Homo sapiens: one gene and its partners. The protein of the gene in region 1 interacts with the protein of each later gene in a pairwise test. Each region holds a gene or a part of one and is shown in the gene's direction. Other genes may lie near its edges.

The links.
Region 2: the proteins of SFXN3 (region 1) and SCN3B interact in binary tests that used the Homo sapiens proteins (3 or more experiments, as listed by UniProt).
Region 3: the proteins of SFXN3 (region 1) and LEPROTL1 interact in binary tests that used the Homo sapiens proteins (3 or more experiments, as listed by UniProt).
Region 4: the proteins of SFXN3 (region 1) and LAMP2 interact in binary tests that used the Homo sapiens proteins (3 or more experiments, as listed by UniProt).
Region 5: the proteins of SFXN3 (region 1) and TLCD4 interact in binary tests that used the Homo sapiens proteins (3 or more experiments, as listed by UniProt).
Region 6: the proteins of SFXN3 (region 1) and SH3GLB1 interact in binary tests that used the Homo sapiens proteins (3 or more experiments, as listed by UniProt).

Annotation. Positions count from the first base shown.
Region 1 is NC_000010.11:101,034,234-101,037,733, forward strand, and holds part of SFXN3 (sideroflexin-3), read left to right. Parts: intron 1-458; coding exon of another isoform or gene 459-461; coding exon 462-622; intron 623-1,263; coding exon 1,264-1,434; intron 1,435-1,710; coding exon of another isoform or gene 1,711-1,769; coding exon 1,770-1,868; intron 1,869-2,252; coding exon 2,253-2,328; intron 2,329-2,433; exon of another isoform or gene 2,434-2,489; coding exon 2,490-2,575; intron 2,576-2,842; coding exon 2,843-2,970; intron 2,971-3,148; coding exon 3,149-3,198; coding exon of another isoform or gene 3,199-3,500. UniProt on the Homo sapiens protein: Mitochondrial serine transporter that mediates transport of serine into mitochondria, an important step of the one-carbon metabolism pathway.
Region 2 is NC_000011.10:123,648,125-123,651,624, reverse strand, and holds part of SCN3B (sodium channel regulatory subunit beta-3 precursor), read left to right. Parts: intron 1-3,500. UniProt on the Homo sapiens protein: Regulatory subunit of multiple voltage-gated sodium (Nav) channels directly mediating the depolarization of excitable membranes.
Region 3 is NC_000008.11:30,101,908-30,105,407, forward strand, and holds part of LEPROTL1 (leptin receptor overlapping transcript-like 1), read left to right. Parts: coding exon 1-66; intron 67-2,392; coding exon 2,393-2,579; intron 2,580-3,500. UniProt on the Homo sapiens protein: Negatively regulates growth hormone (GH) receptor cell surface expression in liver. May play a role in liver resistance to GH during periods of reduced nutrient availability.
Region 4 is NC_000023.11:120,459,297-120,462,796, reverse strand, and holds part of LAMP2 (lysosome-associated membrane glycoprotein 2 isoform A precursor), read left to right. Parts: intron 1-3,500. UniProt on the Homo sapiens protein: Lysosomal membrane glycoprotein which plays an important role in lysosome biogenesis, lysosomal pH regulation and autophagy.
Region 5 is NC_000001.11:95,148,355-95,151,854, forward strand, and holds part of TLCD4 (TLC domain-containing protein 4), read left to right. Parts: intron 1-347; coding exon 348-437; intron 438-1,853; coding exon 1,854-1,912; intron 1,913-2,970; coding exon 2,971-3,065; intron 3,066-3,500. Other genes in the region: TLCD4-RWDD3 (TMEM56-RWDD3 protein), read left to right, coding at 348-437, 1,854-1,912, 2,971-3,065.
Region 6 is NC_000001.11:86,707,576-86,711,075, forward strand, and holds part of SH3GLB1 (endophilin-B1), read left to right. Parts: intron 1-3,500. UniProt on the Homo sapiens protein: May be required for normal outer mitochondrial membrane dynamics. Required for coatomer-mediated retrograde transport in certain cells. May recruit other proteins to membranes with high curvature. May promote membrane fusion.

The DNA of each region.
Region 1 (3,500 bases):
TCCGCAGTTAATTGTGCCCCTGGTTTATTGAGACTAGAGAATGGCAATGACTTTTACCAAGTATACTGCTTGTAAACATTTTGTTAACAAGGCACGTCCTGCACATCCCTAGATCCCTTAAACCTTGATTTTATACAACACATGTTTTTGTGAGCTCCAGATTGGGTCAAAGTGCTGGGGCAAAGTGGCTGGGGCAAAGCTACAAATTAACAACATCTCAGCAAAGCAATTGTTTAAAGTACAGGTCTTTTTCAAAATGGAGTCTCTTATGTCTTTCCTTTCTACATAGACACAGTAACAGTCTGATCTCTCTTTCTTTTCCCTACATCTAGTCACCTTGAGCTCTTGAAGGGACTGATGATAAGCTCAGGGGCCAGGGCAGGGGCACCAAAGATTTCCCCTAGCTGGAGCCCTTGGACCCTTGGACTCCCGCTCTGACCCTTATCTCTGTCCTGCAGAAAATGGGTGAATTGCCTTTAGACATCAACATCCAGGAACCTCGCTGGGACCAAAGTACTTTCCTGGGCAGAGCCCGGCACTTTTTCACTGTTACTGATCCTCGAAATCTGCTGCTGTCCGGGGCACAGCTGGAAGCTTCTCGGAACATCGTGCAGAACTACAGGTGACCACCCCTCAATCTGACCCTGTGTGCCAGGATCTCATTTTCTGTGATTAATATAATATGTTTTGTACCTGCCTCCTCAAGCTTGACAGTGACCCTGTCCCTCAATCCCCTCACTCTCTAGCCCCGTCTGTTGGCATCACAGAGCTTTAACCCAAAGGATTTTAGGGCATTTGGGTTGAGAAGATGGCATTGATATTTATGGGAGGGGCTGCTCTATGCATCACAAACCTCTACAGGGATCTATCCCATTGCGGGGTCACCCTCTGCAAGGATAGAGGTGCTCAAAGTGGAGTCCCAGGAAGATAGGAGGGAAATCCCCTTATCTTTGGGAGGAAAAACTCTTGCAATGCTTGCAGCCATTTTTGACCCACTGGAAACCACCATCATCCCTGACCCAGCATTTTGGCAGAAACAGAAGGGTACCCCTCTTTGTGTGGCTATAAGGGAAATAGAAATAGGAGCCTCCACTTCTGGGAAACTTTGGCCCTCTCCCAAAGATAAGGAGCTTCCTTATGCTGAGACTGGGGGCTGAAGTTCCTGGTTCTCTGTCCAGAGTTACCCTGAGCTGGGCAGGTGGGGCCTGTGAGGGCAGATCTGCCCCCTGGCATAGCCTGTCTGCTCCTTGCCAACTTCTGCAGGGCCGGCGTGGTGACCCCAGGGATCACCGAGGACCAGCTGTGGAGGGCCAAGTATGTGTATGACTCCGCCTTCCATCCGGACACAGGGGAGAAGGTGGTCCTGATTGGCCGCATGTCAGCCCAGGTGCCCATGAACATGACCATCACTGGCTGCATGCTCACATTCTACAGGCAGGTCTTGTCCCACGTCCCCTTCTTCAGTGCCCTAAGCTAGAGCATAGCTTGACTAGGTGCGCTTCTTGTCTGGGCCAACTGGGTGAGTGAAAGATTGTGTCAGAATCGCTTCCATTCCTCAGAATTCAGCCTCAGGAGGTCTCTCACCCCAGAGACAGTAGGTGTGTTTGTATAAATGGGGGTGGGGGTACATAGGGGTTACCAGAACAGGTTCTAGGGCCATTAACTGGGTCCCTTCTTAGGCTTGGGGAATAACCTTTGGTTTCATTACAGGGGTCTAAAGATGAGGGCCACTGTAGACGGGGCAGAAGTGAGTGTCTTTGTTCCCTCAGGAAGACCCCAACCGTGGTGTTCTGGCAGTGGGTGAATCAGTCCTTCAATGCCATTGTTAACTACTCCAACCGCAGTGGTGACACTCCCATCACTGTGAGGTGAGAGCCAGCCCCCAGCAGCAGCTGCACTGTCCCATCTGACCCTCTCCTCCCAGCCTGCAGTGCCCTCTCCTTTCTCTCCGGTTCCCTGTGGACCATGCAGCCAGTGCTCAGCGCCCTCTCCTCAGCCTGCCCCACCCCGAATTACCCTGCCTAACTGAAGGCATGAGGTCCTCTTATGTATGCTGTGGGGGACCCACCCCTCTTCACAGGGTGCTACTGGGGCTTCTAGACAAGTTTACGCCGGAGATGGAGGGAAGGCTTCTTCTGCAAGGAGCTTCCCCTTTTATGCCTCATGTATTGAGGACTTGGCATATCCCTAAAGGAAAGGGCCACCTGCTGGACTTGTCACCTCTCCCCGTGACCTGGCTTTTCCACCCACAGGCAGCTGGGGACAGCCTATGTGAGTGCCACCACTGGAGCTGTGGCCACGGCCCTGGGACTCAAATCCCTCACCAAGGTAAAGGCCCCTCACTCCCCTGACCACCCCATTCATCCTCTATCTGCCTCCTTCTTCCTCATCACACCTCCAGTTCTGACCTATATGCCCCCTATATCTCCCCAGAGTCCCTCACCACCCCATGGCCCTTAGGGCCACTGAACAACACCCTTCCTCCCCAGCACCTGCCCCCCTTGGTCGGCAGATTTGTGCCCTTTGCAGCAGTGGCAGCTGCCAACTGCATCAACATCCCCCTGATGAGGCAGAGGTGAGTGACCCCGGCTCCTGGCATGTGCATGCCCAGAATGTAGCACACTGTCCATCCACGCAGACCACCTCAGAATGGGGACATCCCTCTCCCTCCCCAGACATGAGCTGCTGGGCCCTGGCTCAGTCTGACCCTGGGATCCTCAGGTGGGAGAACCAGCCTTTGAGCCTGGGGTGTGTGAGGGGACCCTGAGGAGCCGCTGCTCATTCGGGCATTGCAGGTGGGATCCGGGGCCTGTGATCTGACCCCAACCCCCCTCCCTTGCAGAGAGCTGCAGGTGGGCATCCCGGTGGCTGATGAGGCAGGTCAGAGGCTTGGCTACTCGGTGACTGCAGCCAAGCAGGGAATCTTCCAGGTGGTGATTTCAAGAATCTGCATGGCGATTCCTGCCATGGGTAAGGCGGGAGTGGCTGGGTGGGGCATAGGAGACTCTGAGAGAAGCAGGTGCAGTTCTCAGGGACTTTGGAGGACTCTGGGGAGAGAGGGAGGAGCTTTGAGGGGGGTCACCCTTCACAGTTCCTGACTTTAACTCCACTACTAATGTTCTCCTTCTTGGCCCTGCTCTCCCCACAGCCATCCCACCACTGATCATGGACACTCTGGAGAAGAAAGACTTCCTGAAGGTAGGCGACTGTACCTCTCTTGTCCTGGAATGGGCGATGGCTGGGAGAAGTGACCAGGCCCCAACTCTCTCTCCAGCCTCGCCTGATTCTCTAAGACTTGCCAGCCCTTCTCCTGACCCCTGCACCGCCTCCTCCACCTTCGTTCATTCAGCAAGAATGAACTGGGCTGGGGTGAAGGAACTCTGCAGGGGCAGGAGGAGAGGACAAAGGAAGGAAACCAACTTCATCAGTGTTACTCCAGTGGCTTCTGACACACAGAAGGGGACTGTCATAGTCATGCTTGATCTCATGCTCATTCTTTT
Region 2 (3,500 bases), on another chromosome or scaffold:
TGGGAGGCCGAGGCGGGTGGATCACCTGAGGTCAGGAGTTCAAGACCAGCCTGGCCAACACGGCGAAACCCCATCTCTGCTAAAAATACAAAAATTAGTCGGGCATAGTGGTGCGTGCCTATAATCCCAGCTACTAGGGGGACTGAGGCAGGAGGATTGCTTGAACCTGGGAGGTGGAGGTTGCAGTGAGCCAAGATTGTGCCACTGCACTCCAGCGTGGGCAACAGGGCGAGACTCCATCAAAAAAAAAAGAAAGAAAAACAGCCGCCCTTCACAGATACAATTTCATTTGATTTGCATGCAATTCCAATATTGAACAATAATGCTGGGTTAGATGTGTTCCCCCTTCCAAAGTTGATTTTTTAATATGATGTACAATATGAAGGGAAAGAGTCTTTCCATTTACTTTCTGCATGCATGAAAAAAAGTTTCCTTATTTCCTTTGTTAAAGCATGTAATAATTTTTATTTTTTAAAGAGATTTAAAAAATAATACAATACAATAAATAATTAATACAATAAATAATTAATACAATAAAATAATAATAATTGTATTAAAAAAATTAATACAGACGATGTCTCGCCATATTGCCCAGGCTGGTCTCTAACTCCTGGGCTCAAGTAATCCTCCTGCTTCAGCCTCCCATAATGCTAGGATTATAGGCATGAGTCACCATGCCCAGCCTTTAAAATAAATAAATAAATAAAACCCTATATTTGCCTGTGCATCACAGTTTACAATGTAATTTTCAATACATTGCTTGTTTTGGTCCTCATGTCTATCCCTGAGGTAGTCAGGGGAAAGAGTGCTATTTCCAGTTTAGAGATGAGAAAATGAGCTCGGGGAAGGGAAAGGACTTGCTAGAGAACCCTTGTTTTCTGATTTCAGTCTTCCAGTGCTCCTTCTAGCACCTCTCATGGACACATGTGCTACTATGCACAATCGCCAGGAGGGCACCTGTCCTCCCATTTCTCTTCTGAGCTACCGTCCCATCTCTCCCCAACACCATCACCTGTCCTAGGGCCTCACTCACTAGCACCTAGTACCTTCTCTGCCCTTCTTCTCCAGGCCTGCCCTTCTAGTTGCCCTGTGTGTTTTCCTCTCTTCCCCTGGTGATCTTTCGTGCATCCTATTCAAGGCCCTAAGTGACCAGCTAAATTGACAGAACAAGTCACGTCAGGGTGTCAGCATCTAAAAATAACCTCATTTATTACCCCTTTTTGGAAATTGTTTATATTCTAATCAAATTTTTCATTATCTCAGTGCAAAGGAAAGCATTCTAGAGCAATCTCAGGAGGAAAAATTGGGCATTGTCCAAAGAAGAGAAAGATTTGAGGGTATCAGAGAAGCTGGTTCATAATTCTTTATTATCTGCCTCATGATAGATGGATGCTACTACTCCCTAGTGAAATATGATCATTATTAATAATCATGTTTTTCCTTCTCATAAATTTCTTCATTATTATTATGGGAATTGAAGAGAAGAACAAAGGTCAAATGATTTGGTCAACATTATTCCAAGAGTTTGTTACTTTTAGTCAGCAATGTAGTTTGAGCTCCTGCCATATTTACAGCCTTCTTTGAATACCTAGAGGGTTTCATAGAAAGAAGGGCAGTGGTGGACTGGGTGCTGTGGCTCATGTCTGTAATCCCGGCACTTTGGGAGGTCAAGGTGGGTAGATCACCTGAGGTCAGAAGTTTGAGACTAGCCTGGCCAACATAGTGAAACCCTGTCTTTACTAAAAATACAAAAATTAGCTGGGCGTGATGGCAGGTGCCTGTAATCCCAGCTACTCAGGGGGCTGAGGCAGGAGAATCGCTTGAACCCAGGAGGCGGAGGTTGCAGTAAGCTGAGATCATGCCATTGTACTCCAGCCTGGGTGACAAGAGTGAAACTCCATCTAAAAAAAAAAGAAAGAGAGAGAGACAGAGACAGAGAGAGAGAGAGGAAAAAAAGAAAGAAAGAAAGAGAAAGAAAGAAAAAAAAGAAAGAAAGAAAAAAGAAAGAAAAGAAAAAGAAAGGAGAAAGAAAGAAAGACAGTGGTGTGCTGAAGACTCAAAGGATGGAGAAACAGACATTACCTCTTGAAGCAAGGAGCAGCAAGTCATACTGCAAAAGGCAAGCAAACAGAGGTGGGGGAACTTTGTGGCCATTTTTCAATGTACTCTTCAGGATCATACGAGCAGAGTTCTCATGCCCTGAAACTAGATTTTGACCAGAAGGGAAGGAGTGGGACTTGCTCTATGATGATACCTTGGATTATTGTTGCCTTAGGGGCAACCAAGAAAAGAGAGGGGCTACCCCACTTTCTGCCATACCCCATTTGCCATCCTGACTGCTTTCCCTCCATTAACTATAAATGAACTAACTATGCTTCTATCTCTGCCATCCCATCTACTTGTTCACTAGAGCACATCACCTCTCACCTTTTCAAAGATGTTAATCCAGCAAATCATTTTCTTGCATTTCATTTCTTTCAAACTCCACCAGCTCTACTGTCATCTTCACCAAAACAAAATCGTCTTCCAATCCGATCCCTGTACCAGACCTCTTAACTGTTTTGATTCCACCCTTGTCCCTTTCACTTCATCAGTTTATTCCCAACACAGCATCAGATCATATGATCTTGTACAAATTAGATCCCATCATTCTTCCTCTCAGAACCTTCTGCTGCTCCATGCAAATGCCATAAACTCTAAGCAAATGCCAAGGTTCTAACATGGCCAATAAGACCTGCTGTGATCTGGCCCTCCCCATCCCTCCTACTACTTCATCCCCTTCTATTCTCACGTTGTTTGCTGTAATTTCCACATTGGACTGTTTGCTGTCTGTTGAGCATGACAAACACACTCCTTTGGGCCCCTTGAGCCCTTGAGTTGCAATTTCCTGTGTTTGACATGCCTTCACACAGATATGTGTATAGCTTGTATCCTCATTTCTTTTCTTCAGCGCCTGCTCAATGATACCTTCTCAGAAAGGCCATCCTCCAATGACCCTGTGCACACACTCTCTCCTGTTTTATTTTTTCTCACAGCACTTTTTACTATTTAATGTTGCTGTTTTCCCTCTCCCTCCATTGGAATGTAAGCTCCATAAAACAGGGATTCTTTTCTTTTGTTCTCTGGTGTATTCTTCGTGCTTAGAATAATGCCTGGCACCCAGAAGGCACTCAGTATATTTGGGAAATAAACGAAAGATAGAATAACATGAATAATGACATTTGTACAAAGCACATTCATGTAAATTAATCCATAAAATTCTCATGATAAACCTACTAGACAGATGTAACTTTCAGCATGATGTCGATGAATAAACTGAGTCCAGAGAGATTACATAGTACATCAAACCCAACTCTTCAGTTGCCAGATTCTATCTTCACCCTGCCTCTATAATTGTAACTGTGCATTCCTTGAGACTTCTTAGTCCACTTCTGAGTTTGTCAACATGAAATGAATGAATTTATCTTTGCCAGCTCTCATTAAATATGAATGTGCCTTGA
Region 3 (3,500 bases), on another chromosome or scaffold:
TTTGTCCTTTGGAGGAGCAATCGGACTGATGTTTTTGATGCTTGGATGTGCCCTTCCAATATACAAGTATGTAAAATGTTTGTCTTTCTGAATATTTAAGGGTAAAATTTTTCTACTTTTAAAGCTTAAAAAAATGTTTTTTTACTACTGTAAAAGTAATGCAGAGAAATGTTCACTTACCAAACACATACCTTTGTAAAAATCACCACTTAAAGTTTGTTTCTAAAGATTTTAGGACACCAAGATGCAAATAATATTTTTGGCTGTTACCTGCTCTTTCACTACTGCTGAGTCTGCAGTGGCAAGATAGCTACACAGTACCTCAGCCCTCCTGCTCAGTTTTTAACATCTATTGATAATACTAATTACAAGAAAATTTAAAATGTCTTTTTGCAAAAAAATACCATAAGCAGTCAAAACACAATTAAAAAAAAAGAGAGAGATGTAAACAATTACTTTCCGGCCGGGTGCGGTGGCTCACACCTGTAATCCCAGCATTTTGGGAGACCAAGGCGGGAGGATTGCCTGAGGTCAGGAGTTCAAGACCAGCCTGGCTAACATGGTGAAACCCCATCTCTACTAAAAATACAAAAAAATAGCCAGGCGTGGTGACACATGCCTGTAGTCCCAGGTACTCGGGAGGCTGAGGCAGGAGAATCGCCTGAACCCAGGAGATGGAGGTTGCGGTGAGCCAAGATCACGCCACTGCACTCCAGCCTGGGTGATAGAGCAAGACTCTGTTTCCAAAAAAAAAAAAAAAATTTCTTTCCTTAGGATAGAAAGAACTTCTCAAAGTTAACATTTTAACATTTAGATAAATTAGAAAAAGATGGACAACTCAATAGAAAAATAAATACAAAAAGAGAACTACAAATTGCTAATAAGCACATAAAAATATCCCCAGCCTCACTCAAAACTAAACAAAATCTATTGACAAAGACAAGAGACAGGGCAAGCAGGGACTCTTTTGTGCTGTGGGGGGAGTACACATAGATAGTTTTCTTGGAGATAAGTTTGCTTGTAGCTCTCAAAGTATATATTCTTTGAGTTAGCCCTTTCACTTGTTAGACTTTCTGATACAAACCCACTTGCAGATGTTTACAAAGATATATTTAGTGGGGGAGAGTATGGATGTTCAAGCAGCCTTGTTTATTTTTTGGTTTTTGTTTTTGTTTTGTTGTTTTATGCGTTATTTATAAGAGCCAAAAAAAATTCTGAAAACATCCTAAATGTCCTTCAAAAGAAAAATGGTTAAATTATAGTAAATCTTTTAATGGAAATACTAGGCAGTCTTAAAAAGAATGAGGAAGAGCTGTAAGTGCTAACATGTAAATATGTTCAAGACATATTGTTAGAAAACTGCAGGGACCCATTCATATTTTAAAGTTTATGTGGAAATGTGGAAGGGTCCCTGAGAAGCTCAATAGGAAAGTGGGCAAGAGGAGATTTGGAACTTTTAGTCTTTACTTTTTGTGCTTTTGTACTGTTTGAATTATTTTTCTTAAGCATATATTCAATTTTTAATTTTTTTTCTTAAAATATTTAGGAAATGGTCAGGCGCAGTGGCTCATGCCTGTAATCCTAGCACTTTGGGAGGCCAAGGTGGGTGGATCACCTGAGGTCAGGAGTTTAAGACCAGCTTAGCCAACATGGTGAAACTCCATCTCCACTAAAAATACAAAAATTAGCCGGGCATGGTGGTGCACGCCTGTAATCCCAGCTAGTCACGGGGGCTGAGGCAGGAGAGTCACTTGAACCCAGGAGGCAGAAGTTGCAGTGAGCCGAGATCATGCCACTGCACTCCAGCCTGGGCAGCAGAGCGAGACTCTGTCTCAAAAAAAAAAAAAAAAAATTTAGGAAACATAAGTAGCTGCTTATCATTAGCCTCTGTACAATCAGATCTCCACCATGATACCTATTTTATTCTATGGTAGTTTTAAGGGCATCTATTTCTTTTTAACTTTTTATTTTGAAACAATTTTAGATTCTGAAGAAGTTGTGAAAATCATACACAGAGGTCCCCTGTACCCTCCACACAGCCTGCCAGAGTCATAAGATCTTACATAACCATAGTTATCAAAACCAGGAAATGACTGTGGTACAATACAGTTAACTAGATGTAGAGTAAAAGCCATCTATTTTTATTGTGATAAATTCTATATTCTGACTGAAAGTGTTCTTACTTTTAGCTTCTTTTCTGTATTTTGATTTCTGTAATTTGGGAGTTCCTCGTGTTGTAAGGGAAGTTTAGGGTTGTTTCAGCTTTATGCTAAGGTTGGGTATCATCCATTAGAAGTCAAGCGATTGAATCTTGATTTTTTAAAAAGACCATATTTTGTGTGTAGGAAAATGACATAGCAAAAATTACATTAACTTATTTTTCTTTTTCTAGCAAATACTGGCCCCTCTTTGTTCTATTTTTTTACATCCTTTCACCTATTCCATACTGCATAGCAAGAAGATTAGTGGATGATACAGATGCTATGAGTAACGCTTGTAAGGAACTTGCCATCTTTCTTACAACGGGCATTGTCGTGTCAGCTTTTGGACTCCCTATTGTATTTGCCAGAGCACATCTGGTAAGTGAATATATTCTTCCATTAATGATTTTATATTGAACATGTGTTACATTTTTCTCAAGCAAAGTTTTTGTTAATGACATGAAAAGAGGTGAAAGACATAAGAGCCTAGAAGATAGAGATTAAAATCTCACTTTATTGTTTGTTCTTGTTAACTAATAAAAGTGATATTGGAGAACGTGGCTTGGATCTGCAGCAGCTGTTGGCTTGCTAATACTTTTTTTTTTCTTTTTTTTTTTTTTTTGAGATGGAGTCTTGCTCTGTCGCCCAGCCTGGAGTGCAGTGGCGTGATCTCACCTCACTGCAAGCTCTGCCTCCCGGGTTCACGCCATTCTCCTGCCTCAGCCTCCCGAGTAGCTGGGACTACAGGTGCCCGCCACCACGCCCAGCTGATATTTTTTGTGTTTTTAGTGGAGACGAGGTTTCACCGTGTTAGCCAGAATGGTCTCGACCTCCTGACCTCGTGATCCGTCCGCCTCGGCCTCCCAAAGTGCTGGGATTACAGGCATGAGCCACCGCACCCGTCTGGCTTGCTAATACTTAACTGTCAGAGTTGAGCATATCAACTCCCCCAGTGCTGAACAACCCAGGCCTATCCTGTAAAACCTAAAATATGGAAGACCTGAGAAGGTGCATGTGCTCTGCAGGCAGAAAAGCACTGAAGAGGGGAAGGGGCTGGCTACGGGTACTCAGTTCTTCCTCCCAAACTCACTGATCCACGCGCCTTCATCTCTGGGGAGGTAGAGAAGACAGCCATATGGAGAAGGCAATTGTTTTCCCACCCCTTCAAAAGAATGTACATGGGTGTGTTTCCATCTGTGATATGCTAAAATTTAATCTACTCTAGATAGATTTTTATATTAAGGAAGAGTAAGCACATTCCTTTATAAACAGAAACTTGTAGAATTTTATGCTGCTTCT
Region 4 (3,500 bases), on another chromosome or scaffold:
TTTGAGTTCTAGCTCTTCCACTCCAGGAATGGGGACTCTTAATCACTTCATTATATAATCAATCCATTGTATCTTGGATCATTGTTTGGTTTCTTTTTATTGGTTTTGTTTTATTGCTAGCATTATGTTCTTCCCCCACCCCTAATTTTGTGTGTTTATGTTTTCAGCTATACTTTGGGTCAAATAGACTTGCAAAAACCTAGCCACTTTTTGCAGTGTCATACACTTGGGGAAGTAAGGTCTGTGTTCTCTGTGAGAGGTTTTTTTTTTTTTTTTTGACAGGGTCTTGTTCCATTCCCCCAGCTGGAGTGCAGTGGAGTGATCTTGGCTCACTGCAACCTCTGCCTCATGGGCTCAAGCGATCCTCCCATGTCAGCCTCCCGAGTAGTTGAGACCACAGGCATGCACCATCACACCCAGCTATTCTTTTGTATTTTTAGTATAGATGGGGTCTTGCCATGTTGCCCAGGCTGGTCTTGAACTCTTGAGCTCAAGTGATCTGCCCCCCTTGGCCTCCCAAAGTGCTAGGATTACTGGTGTGAGCCACTGCCCGGTCAAGGTCTGCATTCTAAAAGAATTTACAAATGACCTTTTTGGAAAACAGGATTGAGAGGATATTTGACTTTGAGAACGGTTGATTTTGAGGCATACCTTTTTCTTTTATTTAGAGAATAAACTCTCAGCTCTAAAATTACACACTCTAGAATATATTCATCTATGGTTTTTTAATGTCATAAAGCCTTTTAAAAATTGGGTATTGTAAAATCAAACACAGCAATAAGGATGGAAATTGCTTGCTAGATACTTTTTAATAAAGTGTAAATATTTCAACTGTAAACTTACCTTTTGGGAAAAGCTCTGTTCCTAGCTTGACATCCATGTCAAAATTTATTGAAGTGAAACCCAACATGGGGTTTGAGGGAATATCCAGAAGACTGATATGTTCAAGATTTGGAAGAGCTAAAGGACTGGCCTCTCTGTAATTAGATTAAGCTATGTTTTGGGTCCCTATTGCAGTGTGTTTTCACCTTGATATAATTAATCAGTATTTATTGAAAATCTAATATGCATTCAGCACTACTTGGAATGATAGGAGATAGAGGAAAAGTAATACACATGGTGTCCCCTACCATGACACTCATGATAGATGACATTCATATAAAAGACACACTGCTAGGGGTTGTGGGATACATCAGATCATCTGATCAAGGGAGCATACTGGAGTTCAAACGAGTGACAGAAATGTTATCTAAAGGGAATCTTGAATCTATCCATATATATCATTCATTCACAGACTTGGTACTTTTTTTATTAGTAACAAATTACTTACTGTATACTATAATTTACCATGGCACACCAGTTTGTTATGAAGTGACAGTTGAAAACTGCTGTGTTGGAGCTTATGACAGTAGGAGGGACAGGATTTACTGCTATAAAATAACTGAATAATTCAGGATAATGTAAAATATACTGAAATGGGATGTGCATTATTACTGCTCCTTGAGGGCTTTTATAGTCAGGGAAAGCTTTGTGGAGAAAATGGCTACTGAAAAAACAGATAGCATATCAGCCCAGGTTCTTAATTGCAAGGAAGAGAAATACAATCTGATTGATTTTAAGCAGAAAAGAATTTATTAAAAAGAACTGGGATATAATGCATACCCTTTGGCCCCACAGTTTCATTCCTAGATATACAGCCAACATACACGCATACATGTGTTTACTAATATGTGCAAGAATGTTTGCAGCAGTGTTTGTAATAGAATCACACTGGAAACTAAATGCCCATTAAAGGTAGCATAGATAAGTAGTTTTTTTGTTTGTTTGTTTTTGTTTTTTTTTGAGACAGAGTTTCATTCTTGTTGCCCAGGCTGGTGGAGTGCATTGGCATGATCTTGGCTCACTGCAACCTCTGCCTCCCGGGTTCAAACGATTCTCCTGTATCAGCCTCCTGAGTAGCTGAGATTACAGGCATGTGCCACCATGCCCAGCTAATTTTTATATTTTCAGTAGAGGTGGGATTTGGCCATGGTGGCCAGGCTGGTCTCGAACTCCTGACCTCAAGTGATCCACCCTCCTTGGCCTCCCAAAGTGCTGGGATTACAGGCGTGAACCACCCCACCTGGCCTGTATTCACCTGATCATAGAAGGTTATACAGCAGTGAGCACAGACTGCAATTATGCATAACATGGGTGAATCTCACAAAACCTAAAATTGAGGAAAGAAAGCAGACACAAAAGAGAGCATAGTGAATGATTTTATTTATATCAAGTTGAAAAATGGATAAAATTAATCTATAGTGTCAGAAATCAGGATAATGGTTACCCTTGGGAAGGGAATAGTAACCCTTGGGAAGGGAAAGGGAAATAAGGAGGGCTTTGGAAGTGTAGTTGACCCTTGAACAACACAAGTTTGAACTGTGTGTGGATCTACTTATACATGAGTTTATTTCACCTCTACCACCCTGAAGACAGCAAGACCAACCCCTCCTCTTCCTCCTCCTCGTTATGATTTTTTTTTTTTGAGACGGAGTCTCTATCTGTTGCCCAGGCTGGAGTGCAGTGGCGCGATCTCAGCTCACTGCAACCTCTACCTCACAGGTTCAAGCGATTCTCCTGCCTCAGCCTCCCAAGTAGCTAGGATTATAGGTGACCACCACCAAGCCCAGCAAATTTTTAGTGGAGATGGGGTTTCACCATGTTGGCCAGGCTGGTCTCGAACTCCTGACCTCAAGTGATCCGTCTGCCTCAGCCTCCCAAAGTGCTGGGATTATAGGTGTGAGCCACCATGCCCAGCCCTCCTTATGATTTTCTTAACATTTTCTTTTCTCTAGCTTTATTTTCAAAACACAGTATGTAACACATATATAACATACAAAATATGTGTGAATCGACTGTTTATGTTGTTGGTAATGCTTCCAGTCAACAGTAGGATATTAGTAGTTAAGTTTTGGGGGAGTCAAAAATAATATGCAGATTTTCAACTGTGCAGTGGGTCAACACCTGTTAATGTTCTGTTTCTTGACACAGGTGGTTTTGGTTTGTGAAATTATTTGAGCTGTAGACTTAATGTTACGTGCACTTTTCCCTTACATCTGTTATACTGTGCCTGTTTCTGTACATATGTTACATATCAAATGTTTATTAAAGGGGTATATTGGGTAACTCAGAATTTCTGGTGCTCCTGGCTATATATACCAAATCCCAGTTCAGGATTCAACAACCCAGATCATGCTGCTGAACTGCACTACCACTGCCAAGTGTGAAATTGAAGCTTGCTCTGCTGGCCTTGTTGCCTGGGAGCTTGATCCTGCTTCTGTTACTCCACACCTGTCTCCCTCCCTGTTCCATTCCTGGCTCCATTTGCAGCCCTCCTTTCAAAGTGTGGGGTGGATACCTTTGTTAGGCAGAGCCTAGCACAAGTGGTCCTCCTTACTGCAAGGGAGTCTGGGAAAGCAAGTATCCAGTGTTTTCAGCTTTTATAGTGGGTGGTGATTTCT
Region 5 (3,500 bases), on another chromosome or scaffold:
TAGTGGCCTTGCCAGTTGCCATCTGGCTGCACAAAAGTCTGTCAGCTGCATCATCATGTATGCATTTATCTGTCTTAGAACTTTTAACCAATAAGTGATTCACCAGTTCTCTAGCAGGAAATTGTAGGCCTTGGTATCTTCCTCCTTCTTTATTCCAAAGTAAAGCTGTGGCCTTTGGATTTCTAAATGGCAAGAAATGGCAATTTTGCATTATACTCTCCGTTATACTTCACACCTGTATATAAATGCTTCCAGGTATAACTTGTTCAGAATGTTCTGTGTCTTGTCAGGATTAAATTTTATTGCAAAGAATCTAAAATCTTTGTGTGTATTTTGTTTAATTTCAGGGTAGTATCCACATGCCATTCTTTGGTGGTTGGTATTTTTGGCCTGTACATTTTCTTATTCGATGAGGCTACTAAAGCTGATCCACTTTGGTAAGCTGTTTCTTTTTCTAAGATTGCCAATTTCATTTATGTTTTGATATTAATTATTTATAAGAACATCACTTACTTTAAAACAGAAAACATATTGATCGTATATGCCTTATTAAAATGCTTGTGCTCAGACATTCTAGCAAAGTGCATTTAAATGATTTATTTTAGATTTGAACACAAATGAAGGCCATTTTGCCTTAGTGTAGCAATTGTTATCCAAAACAAGGAGAATATGATGATAATTTAAACATTTTTACTGTGTTAATGAGTAAAGCCAAGTTATTGTAGTCACAGTTCTGAAGAAAAATAAATCATTATTGAGATAGGGTAGTCAACTTGGATAATATCTACTTAAGACTTTTTTGTCTCCAATTTATGTTTGACTCATTTGATATCAAAGAGATGAAATGAGAGTTACAGATGGCCATGTGATAGGAATTTAGTACCACAGGATTTGAAGCACTAATGCACTAATAATAACTGTGTTCAGTAGTAATAGGATAACATGTAAGATGGTCCTTTTAGAAAAATTTAAATGTCATTCCAATGGCAGAAATTTTGCAAACTGTTTCCTGGTGTTATATGAGAAGGCTTAGTTCAGCTTAGTTTGAGAGAGCAGGCATGTTTGAAGAAGCACTGCACTGAGATGAGGTAGTTGTGGGCTCCGGGGGATGTAGGGCAATTTAGCCTTTTCTTTTGACCACCACCATTTGACTGCAAGGACGTTTTTCTATTCATAAATATAAAATTATTCCCAGAAGAATAATATCAGTATTGATACATTTTCATTGGGATGCTGTTTTTCAAAGAGAATTAATTTATTGAATTTAATTCCATGACTAGGTTTTTAAATAGTCTACCTACAAAATTTCTAGCTTTTTAAAAATTTTCGTTTTCATTTTACTAACGTGACCATCAGCAAAATAAAACCAGTTCTTTTGGGAAGTAAATTTCATAACAAAGATTTGATTCATTGTTCAAGTTTTGCCTTATCGAACTTTAACATAATTTTTGATTTGAATTTTATGTCATGATTTACTCCAGGTCAAATTTTCCTGGTTATATTTACAGATCAAAATTTGTAAAGAAGGCACAACTTGTGCTAAATCTTTCTATTAAATATTTGTAGTCCAGCTATTTTAGTTAGTGTTACTTTCACTAGTAGTTCACTTTGTAACTATCTTACTATGTAAGATAACAGCAGTAGTTACCTTACTGCTAACACCAGTACCACATGATGCGTCACAGTTTGGCTAAACTGTCATTGTGTGTTTTGCAATTTTATTTGAAGATGACAGCTTACCATTTGAGAATCTATAGAAAGCAATTTTATTATATTTAAATCTCTATAGAAAAAAGAAGTAGCGGTCATCTACAATCTATATACTTTAAAAAGGAACCTTTTTTTTTTTTCAGGGGTGGTCCATCACTTGCAAACGTGAATATTGCTATTGCCTCAGGCTACCTCATTTCTGGTATGTGAGATGTTGTTTTATTGTCTAATTCCTTGTAAACTACTCACGGAATTATACAAAGAATATATAGTCTATGCTTTTGGTTTATTTGAGAGATAGCATTTAGGAAGCATACAGAGGAAAAAAATACCTCCCATGATGGTAGAACATGAAATGTCTTTTCATGAAATGGTTTTCTGTTTCTCACTGAAGATCAGAGTTACAGAGTGATGCCTCAAACAACTGAGGCCTGGACATTTTTTATCAGCAAGGATATGGTCCCTCTTTGTCCTAATGAGGCTCTTAAGTGTAATGACTGTGAAACTAACGAAATTTAACTTTTAGGGTCCCTCACTTGCAAGAGTTCTTGAAATGTGTTCCAGTAGTCATGGTTTTGTGTTGTTTTTGTAAAATTTGCAGAAGTAAGCTTTTTTCTTTGTTTTTCTTTTTAATAGTTATAGTTTTTGGTGGCGTCACTATTTTGAATTAGTATTTAATTGCATTCTTTTTTATTTTTAAAATATTTTTTGTACGATTTGTTTTATAAATGAGTTGGTCATTTTGTACCTTCCCTATGACCATCTTATCTCTGTTTGAATTATTGTAGTGACAAAAATCAGTCACTTAAGCTTATTTAAAATTATTTCTATTCAATAATATTTTTTGTTTATTTTAACTCTGGAAACAAGTTATTCATTTATGCTTTCAACAAATATTATATTACATATGATTAGGTTGGTACAAAAGTAATTGCAGTTTTTGTGATTAAAAATAATGGCAAAAATCACAGTTACTTTTGCACCAACCTACATGCCAGGCCTTGTGCTAGATTCTGAGGGTTTAAAGATGCTCACAACCTGGCCCTTGTCTTAGAGGAGCCACAGGAGTGTGGATGAGACAGGCATATAGGAGCAGAGATTTTATGGTAAAGTAGATAATCAGACTAACTGAGGGATGAACAAAGTGCTGTGGGCTCAGAGTGGACAGTGATGAGTTGGCAGGAGAAAGAGTTCAATACATTTGAAAAACAGTGCAACTTTCTTCTTATGTAATACCTTACTCACTTTTCTTTCTTACAGATTTGTCCATTATAATTTTGTATTGGAAAGTGATTGGTGACAAATTTTTTATAATGCATCATTGTGCGTCCCTGTATGCATACTACCTTGTACTGGTGAGTTCCAGGATTTTCTGTAGCCTAACTAGCAGACAAGATTGGGAATAGTGATGTAAAGGTGAACATAAATCTAAACATACAATTCTTAGTTTTTAAAGACCATCTCCAGATGCATTCAGGGATTGCTTTTGTGGTATGCTATCTTCTGTATTAACTAAAATAATACCTTTATGTGTGTCTGTGTTGGTGTTGGTGTGTCTGTTTGTATTCATAGATTTTGAGACAGACAAATGACCCTAATTCTTTGAATTTCCATTTAAAACCTTCAGGATTGTTGTAGCTATAGATATTTGTCTGTATTTCTAGATGCATTTATGATTTAACAGCAAAGAGTATGAGCCAGCGAAAATATTTCTTTTCTGTTTAATTCCATGTGCAATTACATATACATAATTACATTTAAGTAGGTTGGAGCAGTGGAGAAATCTTGCT
Region 6 (3,500 bases), on another chromosome or scaffold:
TTAGAGATACATACTGAAATGTTTATGGATAAACTTATATCATATCTGAGATTTGGTTTTTACAGGGTATTTTTTTTTTTTTTTTTTTTTGAGATGGAGTTTGGCTCTTGTTGCCCAGGCTGGAGTGCAATGGCGCGATCTCAGCTCATTGCAACCTTCGCCTCCCCGATTCAAGCCAATCTCCTGCCTCCGTCTTTCAAGTAACTGGAATTACAGGCAGGCTCCACCACGCCCAGCTAATTTTGCATTTTTAGTAGAGATGGGGTTTCACCATGTTGGTCAGGCTGGTCTTGAACTCCTGACCTCAGGATCCACCTGCTTCGGCCTCCCAAAGTGCTGGGATTACAGGTGTGAGCCACCACACCAGTTGAGATTAGCGTTTGAATATTTCAAAAGAAAAAAACAGAAGTCGCTGAAACAACAGCAACGGAATGTTGATAGTTGTGGAAGGTTGGTTATGGGTTCATGAGGTTTCATTATACTGTTATACTTTTGTATGTTTGACATTTTCCATAATACTTTTTTAAAGATAAAATTTGTAAGAAAAAAAGGATGCTTCTAAAATAGAACATGTGAAATTTGGAATGCTGTGTGGTAGTTTTCAACAAAACACTGCTTTCTCATCTCAGTATTTATTTCATCACTGAGTTCCTACATTAAATTGCATTGACATCAGTATAATGCCAAAGTACCAAGTTTCATGCTAAGAATAGCTTAAGAGCTATGCCAATATCTCTTTATAAGCAGTAAGAACAGTAGAGAGAGAAACATTCACGTTTATAAATAATAATTTTCATTCAAATCAAATTGTACCGTAAGGAATATGCCATTCTTTGGTTGGCCAACGCCATACATTGTTTTCCATTTTACTTAAAAATTTCTAAGTTAAAAATTAAACATGTTTCTTGTTTTAAAAAAAGGTCAGCTCAAACTAGTAAAGCACATAGATGCGTCCCATCACCACTCCACTTCCCTCCTTTTAAAATTTGTTTATAAGCCTTGGTACTTTAAAAAGAATGTTAGACTAGAATGTATAAATGAGTAGGAATGTTTATTCTTAACTAGCCCATTTGGGTGCTTGTTTTTAAGTACCTCAAGATGGTAAAATACAAAAGTATCAGGTAATTCACCCTTGCTTAATTGTTATTTTACTAGAGTTTTAAATGCCATTTATTCTTAGAATCCATCTTTTTAGTCCAAACTTCTTAGTTGAGCATTAAATACTCCCTTACAATCTGGTCCTTTCTCTCACTTATATAAACACTGTATTCCAAATTATTTTTTAATTTCCAAAATATCTTCTACTTATTTTAGGCTTTTGTTCATATGGTTAGACTCCTCTTAAGTGTCCTGTCTGCCTATTCTTTCCTTTCCTTAAGATACAACTTTATTCATCTCCAAAATGGAGAGAGTAAAAAAAATTTTAAAATAAAAGTAAAATAAACTTTTTTTAAAGATATAGCTTCAAATCCATCTCAGCTGATAAGGCTTCTTAGACCACAAGAGCTTGCTGTGAAATCGTGAATCATTTTCAATTCCAAATGATGAGGTGGCACTTTTCTTCTAATGAACTGTTATGTTAGATCTCTTGGAACTCTAAAGTTCTGTTACTCTGACTTTCTTTAATAAGTTTGTATGTGCTAAGGCATCAACTCTGTTTCTTATTCCCCTCTTACAACATCTAACATGGTTCATCTTTTATATCATTTTAGCCAGGCAAATTACCATCCATATGTGAAGTTTAATCTTTGAAGGGCAACAATAAGCATGTTAAATAACAGTATCTTTATTAGTATTTTCTAACATTGTTTGCGGACCTTGAAGTTAACTAATACCAGTATAAATTGAGTACCTCCTAGGTGCTTGGCGTTGAAAGATACAAAGCTGAATGAGACCCTGTTCCTGCCCTCAGAGACTTCATAATAATAGTCTCAAACTTGTCATAAATCTTATTTGTACTAAATAGCCATTTTGTGAATAACTTTATTTGATAAATCTTTCAAGTGGATAAAGGAACAAGAGATGTGTTTTTAACTCAGAATTCTTATTGAAGCAAAACCTTGCTCACCATCATTAAAATAAGAGCAAAGACTTTCTAAAAAGAATTTTTCAAATCAAATTACTTAGGGAGGGAGTTCATTTTAATTTTCTAACATTTCCTCTAAACTGATTATTAAAGTCATACTATGAAATTCGTGAACACCAGCTATTTTCTAAGGAATATAGTTCTTAAAATATAGTTTTGAGCTTGGCCTTGATCTCCCATTTATTTCAGCAAGTGTCATGGTGTGTCTAAGGATGTAAAGATGAATATGATGTTGCCGTTCAATAGCTCCTGTCAGACCCTCCCTGGAGTTTCAGTTTGGCCAAACAACTCTCTCAAGCACTTCTGAAATCCTATTTCTTTTACAGAATTCACACCGTGACAACTTCACCATGTTTCTTAAATTCTAATAAATAAAATATGTCACATTCGAAATCCATACATTTTCTTGTTATATAAAAACTCTACATGTTTAGTGTTACTTAAAACTGTTTTCACATCCTTTGGTGCTATTTGCATTACTTTAGTAAAATAGATAGAAGATAGTTTGTTAACCTGATGTTAAAATTTACACTTATGTACTACATGAGTAAGGTAATTAGAAAATCTATAAAACTCTTTTAAATTCATCATATTTCTTGAAAGAATTTTTTTTTTTTTTTTGAGACGGAGTCTCGCCCTGTTGCCCAGGCTGGAGTGCAGTGGCACGATCTTGGCTCACCGCAATCTCCGTTTCCCAGGTTCAAGCTATCCTCCTTCCTCAGCCCCTCTAGTAGCTGGGATTACAGACACGCGCCACCGTGCCCGGCTAAATTTTGTATTTTTAGTAGAGACGGGGTTTCACCATGTTGGCCAGGCTAGTCTCGAACTCCTGATCTCAGGTGATCCACCCGCCTCAGCCTCCCAAAGTGCTGGGATTACAGGCATGAGCCACCGTGCCTGGCCTTTCTTGAAAGTATTTTTAAGGTAATGACAGAGCTACAAATTAATCCTAAACTCTTAACCACACCCAACTGATGTACTCCTAGTTGCTTTGCTACTATATTTAAAATGATCAAACACCTAAGTCAATTACTTTAATATTCTTTGGAGACCAGCTTACTGAAAGAACCTCAACACAGTTAATATATTTGAAGCAAAACTCCAGCACAGTGAAGTAACAGTAATAACAGCTGAAATTCCTAAATGGGCCAAAGAGGAAAGTAAAGTAATGCAGCATGCACTAAACCAAGCGATACATATTTAAATAGTTATGAATGAGTTTAGAACAGTGGTTCTCAGTCTTGGCTGCACTTAAAATGCTTGGGGAATCTTTATAAATGCCAATATATGAGCTACACCCCAGTCCAATTAAATTAGAATCTTAGGGGTTGGATCAGACCAGACATCAGTGTTTTCTAAAGCTCCCTCAAGTAATTCTAAAGAACAGCCAAAATTGGGAACCAATGGAGAAAGA